Linked DNA regions of Homo sapiens. The protein of the gene in region 1 purifies or fractionates together with the protein of each later gene. This does not show direct contact. Each region holds a gene or a part of one and is shown on either strand. Other genes may lie near its edges.

Evidence for each region. Proteins that work in one complex are often made in the same cells at the same time.
Region 2: the proteins of MAP7 (region 1) and RC3H1 purify together in Homo sapiens (affinity purification with western blotting; 2 studies listed by BioGRID, with this or other methods). This does not show direct contact.

What each region holds. Positions count from the first base shown.
Region 1 is NC_000006.12:136,548,751-136,552,503, reverse strand, and holds the start of MAP7 (ensconsin), read left to right. Parts: upstream 1-2,081; 5' UTR 2,082-2,095; coding exon 2,096-2,162; intron 2,163-3,753. UniProt on the Homo sapiens protein: Microtubule-stabilizing protein that may play an important role during reorganization of microtubules during polarization and differentiation of epithelial cells. Associates with microtubules in a dynamic manner.
Region 2 is NC_000001.11:173,980,655-173,984,407, forward strand, and holds part of RC3H1 (roquin-1), read right to left. Parts: intron 3,004-3,753; coding exon 2,764-3,003; intron 2,249-2,763; coding exon 2,073-2,248; intron 356-2,072; coding exon 155-355; intron 1-154. UniProt on the Homo sapiens protein: Post-transcriptional repressor of mRNAs containing a conserved stem loop motif, called constitutive decay element (CDE), which is often located in the 3'-UTR, as in HMGXB3, ICOS, IER3, NFKBID, NFKBIZ, PPP1R10, TNF, TNFRSF4 and in many more mRNAs.

The sequences.
Region 1 (3,753 bases):
CTGGAGGGTGGGACGTTAAAGGAAGACATTTTAAGAATCAAAGAGTCTTAGCTGTGTTTATTGGGGTAGAGCCCTTGGGTGCAGAAACATTTAGGGATTCGGGAGAAAAAAGGGATGATGTTTGAAGGAGGCAGGAGGGAAGTGGACGGTGTCAGGAGGTTCAGCTCCTCCCCTGGAATGGGGAACCCTGAAGATTTGAAATGGATGTGGGAGCTCCAGACAGATGGCTTCCATGTTCCAAGTAAAGTACAACTTGAAGTACGACGTGATGGTGTTTGACATTTAACAGATGTCATCTGTTCTCTGCAGAGTCACTCAGCAGCCTCCCCTGTTGCAGACACCTCCTTAGGTTTGGAACACACTGTCTATACAGGGCCTAAGTGCAGGATTTTGGTGTGTTCCTTATTTCATTTATTTTTGTTTAACTTGTGGCAGATAAATACAGGTTATCAAAAGAATGGGACAATGAGTAAGCACACACCAAACTAAACAAAACAAAACAAATAGAAACATCACAAGTCTTGAATTTTTTTTTTTTTTTTTTTTTTTTTTTTTTTTTTTTTGGTCAAAGAAAGAACTCATTGGTTGATTTAAGTCGGTGGTAAATCAGAAAGTTGAAAATAAATCACCCTCCTTCTCCAGGGTTCTTCCGGATAGTTCAACTCTAAATTCAGCTGAGAGTATTTCTGATGCTCAAAGAAAAGTGTCTTAAACTCTGATGTTTTAATGTAGTTAAAAAAAACACAAAAAATCTTTGCTGAGGCCCAAGCTGAGGTCAAAAACTACCTCTAGCCATCTGGTGCTTTATTTTTATTGATTAGAAGTCTCTGATAAGACTGATTTGAATGTGATTTAGGAATATCACATTCTAAATGGTCAGTTTGCCTATTCCATTATAGAAATGACACTACGGGAAAATTCATCATCACAGACCACAGCAGAAGTGTTCTTTAGTTAAAGCTCTACCTAGTCATCCAGAAAGCCAGTAAGTAAACCAAATAAAAATAGTTCACTGGGCTCAGAGTGGCAAGTTTTGCATGCAAAGATCGTGAAAATTGTAACCCTAACAATAAATCCAATACTGTTCTCGACTCTCTTGTGTGTCCAGTGCTGCTGCAGTCCTTGGAAGGCTTTTAAACTGTTCAGAGCTTGCTGGTTATCTTCAGCCAAGCCAGAGAGTGGGAGTGCAGTGCATTTTAGTGTAACCATGCGGAACTGGTCGCTCCTTGATTTTGTGCCGTATGTTTCCATTTGTGTAGGCTTTTTCCCCCCTCAGTATTTTGTTGCTTATCCTTTAGAGCGAAATTGGTTTTTCCTCGGCCAATAATCTGTTTCTTTAAAAAAAGAAAAATTCGTTACCTATTGCCTTTTTTTCTGGTCTTCCTGAGCAAGCCAGAAGTCACAAGGTCGTTTACTAAACGGAAACTAAGAAAAAGAAAAGCCACATCAGCCGGCACAAGCCTCTCTAACTTGTGTGCCCTGAGGCTCATCAGATGCGAAGTCCTGGCGACAAGATAGGGTCGCCCGCAGTGGCTTCCTAAAGCGCAGATCCAGGCCGGCTCCCAGCGTGGAATCCGACCCATGTACTTCGCCTCTCCACGTGGCATCAGATGCTCTGCCGGCTGTCACCGTGAACTCCAGCCCTCGCGGAGCCGACACTGACCTGGCTACTTCAGAGTTCGGAGGGAAATAGCGTCTCCGTACCCTCGCCCCACCTGGGCTGCTCCTCGGACCGCCGCTCGTCCCAGACTCCAGGAGGCGCCACCAGGCCTCGCTGACCCCGCTCCATATCTCCGGGAGCCCTCAGCTGGTCGGCCGCGGCGACCGGAAGCTCCGGACTGAGGTACTGGTTCCGCCCGCCGCTCTTCCAGCCGAGACTCGGCAGCGGCGGTCGGAGCGGCTGCCACGCCGCACCTGCCCGCGAGGGGGCGCGCCAGGCCCAGGCCGCAGCCGACTGCCGCGCTCTCTGTCCCCGCCCTCCGCCATCCCCGGACTGCGCTCACCTGTCTGGGCCGCTGGCCTGGGAGGCGGGGGCCGGCGGGAGCCAAGCCGAGGAAAGGGCGGAGCGGCTCTCCGGGCGCGTCATCGGAGCACCATGGCGGAGCTAGGAGCTGGCGGCGACGGCCACAGGGGCGGCGACGGCGCAGTGCGAAGCGAAACAGGTGACCGCACAGCGGGGATAGTGGGGGTCCCGTCGGGCAGGGGACGGCGAGCGGGGCCGGCGGGCTGGCACCGAAATCACCCGGCGCCGGCAGCCCCCTCCCCGCCCGCGCGGCCGCGGCCCGGAACAACCGGCCCTGCGCGCCGCGCACCCTGCTCCGAGAGCGCCTTCCCCCGCCCTTCGCCGCCGCGGCTCGGCCAGCCCGGCTCGGCCCCGGCCGGGGTTGCGGCCGCCCTCGGGCGCTCCACCGCGACTTTCCCGCAACAGGTGGAGGCGAGCCGGGGGAGGAAACGGAGAGACCCCGGCCGCTGCCCTCCCCGCCGCGGCCTCGGGTCTAATTCAGTTGAATGGGAAATCGTATCCCCCAGACCAAACCAGTGGCCAGAGAGTCGTCGGCCAGGTGCGACTGGCAGGACGAGCAGTTTCTGGGCACCTCCTCCCGCCTTCCCTGGTCGCCCCGGGTGCCGGGGGCTCCTCAGCGGGGTCGGTGTGGGGCAGGACCGCGGGGTGAGCGGCCCGCCCCCCAATCTGGTGCCCGCAGTGGCGACGACCGTCGTCCGAGGGGACCGAGCTCGGGAGGGCCGGGGCCCAGTGCAGCACGGTGGGGGTTTGCGAGTGCGGGCTTGACGGGATCAGACTTTCGTTGACTTGTCGGAGTTCTCAGAGTTTTTTGTTTTTAGTCTGTGCAGGAGCCCAAAGGAGGATTGTTGGCTCTGCAGCCCGGGATTTGGTGGTCAGGCCTCTGTGTTGAGGATACCCCTCCCCCACAACCTCCAGGGGCACACTTAGGGACAGGGGATCACGTCCCCAAGACCAGCAGCAAGGCTTCCCAAGACCAGCAGCAAGGCTTCCCAACCCCGCCCATCTCTCCATAGTATGAAGCCGATTTTTCTCCCTCGTGATTTTTTTTTCTCCAGAGGCTATCTTGCAAATCCGTCCCTCTCCACTGGTTCCCTCTTCTATTCTTGGCCAGTAAGCTGTTTCTATATCTTCCTACACTTGGGGATGGGGGCAGTGAGGCAGTTTCTTACTTTAAAAAGAAATTCAATTCTTAGACTCTCCAATTGCAAGCTGTTTTCCACTTCCATACGGTCACAATCGGAAGCATTTGTTTCCTAAATGTAAGAATCACTGTCTCCCCACCATCAAGTATGCTTATTTTAACGTGAAAGGTCCAGAGAGCTCTGAAACAGTATTTGCAAATTATGTATCTGCTATTGCTAGGAAGAGGTTGGGTACGTAAAGTCTAATGATTTAATCCCTTCAGCCAAGATACCTGAGGTTAAGACTGACAAAGTATCTTGAACTTGTTTAAGTCATGCTCCTTCCTGTAGGGAGTTTGTCTTAATGTGTTCGCAAGATTGGTAGATCATTATTTTGTTTTGGGGTGGAGAAGAGATGCCTTTGTAATTGCTTTCGGGAATTTGATGAGCTAGACGCTGGGACGGGGCTCCCCCAAGTGAGGGCCCCGGGAGAGGAGCATCCTCATTTGTAAATATACGGCATGATTTTCGTTCCTAACCCTGACCCAGTAACTGCATGTGAAACAACATTGTTCTAGCGAGCTAAGTGTTAGTTTGTGCTCAAAAATA
Region 2 (3,753 bases), on another chromosome or scaffold:
AAAGTGGTATTATAACGTGATTGGTTATGACATGACACTGGCTATAAATACAATTTACAAAAGCTATACAGTATTCACTTTAATATACATTTGTTAAATGAATTACCAAAATGCCAAGATTAGTCTAAGAAGTAAGGAACAAAAAAGGTCCTACCTTGTCAATAATGGACTGCATATGAGATTTGTGAGACTGGTCTCCATAAAGCAAAGAGGACCACTGGTCCGGTGCAATTCGTAAGCCTGCTTCCATAGCAATCTGCACTATCTGGGAGTCATGTTCTCGCCGCAGAGCTTCATAGGTTCTAAATTCTTCTTTCAGCTGCATCAAAGAAGAGTCTTCATCACGTTTGGTGACCTAATAAGACACAAATAATCTCATAATGAAGTCAAAAAAATGAGTTTATGCTTTATATGAACATATAATTTTTAATGTAACAAATTTAGCATCAACAGCAAGATTAAATGAATATACCATTTGCCTGCAAAATATTTTCTCCTTAACTTGTTGAGGTAGGTATATTGCTATCATCCCATTCTGAGTCAAGTTGGATTTAGGCCAACATTTTCTGGATAGGTCTTTCAGAAAGAATAAATACAGGCTGAGAATCTCTTACCCAAAATGCTTGGGCCAGAAGTGTTATCAGATTTCAGATTTTTTCAAATTTTAGAATATCTGCATTAAACCACTTGAGCATCCTTACTCTGAAAATCTGAAATGCCCCAATGAGCATGTGAGCATCATGTTGGTGTTCAAAAAGTTTTGGATTTTGGATTTTTGTATAGTCAATCTGTATGTGCTGGAATGAAATCCAAAGATTTGACATACTTTAACATATACATTCAGTTTAAGGTGTATGTGTGTGTATATGTATTTTTGAAAAGAAAAAAATACTAATACAATTCTATATTCTGAAAAACAATATGTTTCTTCTCCATAAATGTGGATTATGACTCTTGGGATTGCCTGACAATGAGCTAGGTGGGACTGATGACTGTAGAGCTTCAGATGCTGGTGTAATTCTAAAAATGATTTAATTTGTACTTGGCTTAATTCTTCATGGAGTTTTGTGGGATGGGCTACTACCAGAAAGTGTAAAGTGTGAGATGCTAGACTAGAATAATCATAATGATTATGATTAGAAGGCTGGAGGCAGGAGAATTGCTTGACCCAGAAGGCAGAGGATGCAGTGAGCCAAGACTACACCACTGCACTCCAGCCTGGGCGACAGAGCAAGACTGCATCTCAAAAAAAAAAGTCAGAAAAATAATACTGGATGTACAATAAATGATACATAGTGAGTAGCAATGTTTGAGGCGGTGCTTATTCAATTTGGGATAAGAGACTATGTCCAGCATTACCATATAAACTGAAATGGCAAATGGAACTTCATTATTGTATATGTGGAATTACACTAGGAGAAAATCTCTGAATAAAATTTATTTGGCTGGGCGCGGTGGCTCACGCTTGTAATCCCAGCACTTTGGGAGGCTGAGGCGGGCAGATCACCTGAGGTCAGGAGTTCGAGACCAGCCTGGCCAACATGGCGAAACCCCGTCTCTACCAAAAATACAAAAAGTAGCCAGGTGCAGTGGCCCTGCCTATAATCCCAGCTACTCGGGAGGCTGAGACAGGAGAATCGCTTGAACGCAGGAGGTGGAGGTTGCAGTGAGCCGAGATCATGCACTGCACTCCAGCCTGGGCGACAGCAAGACTTTGTCTCAAAAAAATAAAAATAAATAAATAAAATTTATTTGTGCTTCAATAACTCTCTCTTCAGACCAATTCTGCACAGTCTTGGTAAGAAATTGATATAGTTTCTTAGTCTCTTCAAATACAAAAATCTATAAACCTTGACTTGATCTATGTTGTTCAATATTGAACATACAAAAATTCAATATAATAGTATTTAACTATAATAAGACCCCATCTACATTCTTTAAAAGAATAAAGAAAAATTGCTGAGATTTTCTGAAAAGATACAGGCAACTTTATTAAACTCAAAGTTTTACTACTTAACTTTGGGGAAAGAACAATATTTCCTTTCAAGCTGAGCTTTAATGTAGGTTCATACCTTGAAACAGGAGGCTCTATAAAGGAGCTGAACAACATGCCCAATGCTAGTTTTAGAGGCTTGAGGAAACCGTGGCTCCAATCTTTGCACCACAAACAGAACCAATACTTTTCTTGACAAAGCAGAACCATCTTCTAAGGCCAGCAGAACCAACTTTAAAGCTTCCTCCTGCATTGCTAGGGAAAGTTGGGCAAAACCAAAATTTATCAAGTACATAGATAAGATAAATCCATTTATTAGAAGGGGAATATTTAATCATTTCTGCAGCTATTCAATTAACTGGCAATACAGTTAAGATTAACCAGCAACACACTTTTACACCATTTTTGTGAGCAATTTTGTATTACATTCTATATATTTTATAAAGAAAACAGATAAAGTGATTAATAAATTTAAGAAAAACTTCTATCAAAATGAATGAACTTCCTGCTACAGGTGTGAAAAAAAGGAAAAATCAAAAAATTAAAAAAAGAAACAACTTTTGGCATTAAGAGAAAAGTTTTAAGTTCACTAAGTTCACCTAGTAAGTCCACTAAGTTACATGGAATTGCCCAAGCCATGAACATCAAACAAGATATTAGTTGGTAACAATAAAATACTGCAAAGAACTAGGCTTTGTACATCACTTATAATTCCTACATCATACTTTTAGAATTACCAGCAGAATAAATACCTAAAGTTAATTATGTACCTGGTCCAAGGAACTGGCATCCCCTAGCCCTTACTGCTGCCCAAAGATTGGAAGAGAGTTGCTGAGGATTCTGGTGCTGGAGAATGAGCTCTGTAACTGTTCGTTCACCTAAAGATCGAGCTGCCCTCATGGCACGAATCCTGCCTTCTTCTTCTACTAGTTGACAGTGGACTAGAGTCACAAGCTTCCTCTGCATTGGGCGACTCAGAACACTCTGAGTAGTGCTGTTCAGACCCACTCCTTTAAAAGAGTAAAGAAGTTATTCCTAGGTTCACAATGCAATTTTACAGTCCAGGAGCAATTCTTCTGTTGGGTTAACTTGTGGGTATGTGACTAGTTCTGGGACTACTAGAGTATTTAAAATAAGCAACAAATAAAACCACACATGTAAAGCTTACTTAAGTATACATTTTTAAAGTATACAAATGTATACATGAGTTATCTCATGTGCACTTAGCATTCATTATGACATTAAATATACCATTACTCATTTTAATCATAGAGGAAGAAAGAAAAAAGGACTAGACAACATTGATAATTAGTTTATAATGTAAATCTTGAAGTCCTAAGAGTTCTGGTATATTATTTGACAGTGGTTAACCTTATTTTCCTAATTAAATAGCAAGCCCTTTCTGTGCAGTAATGGCAACTTCCGTATTCATTATACCGCCTATAGCATAGCATATAAAACTGGATAGAAGGCAAACCATTCAGAATTGTCAAATGATGGAAAGCACTGCTGAAGTAAGTAGTTATATTTGCTATTATCATCATTCGAATAATGTTTCCATCATCACATAAACTAAAAATTCACTATTTTATTTGATGTGGTTTGTGTCATGATATTTAGCACAAAATGAGTTTAGTTTACAATAGATAAATTTCATTAACATTTGCTTAATAGCTCACAATTTTTATGGTAACAAGTCTCTTTAGTAGACATTTACTTAGTATGGATAATTGCATCAAATTTACCTCTAGTTAGGTTTT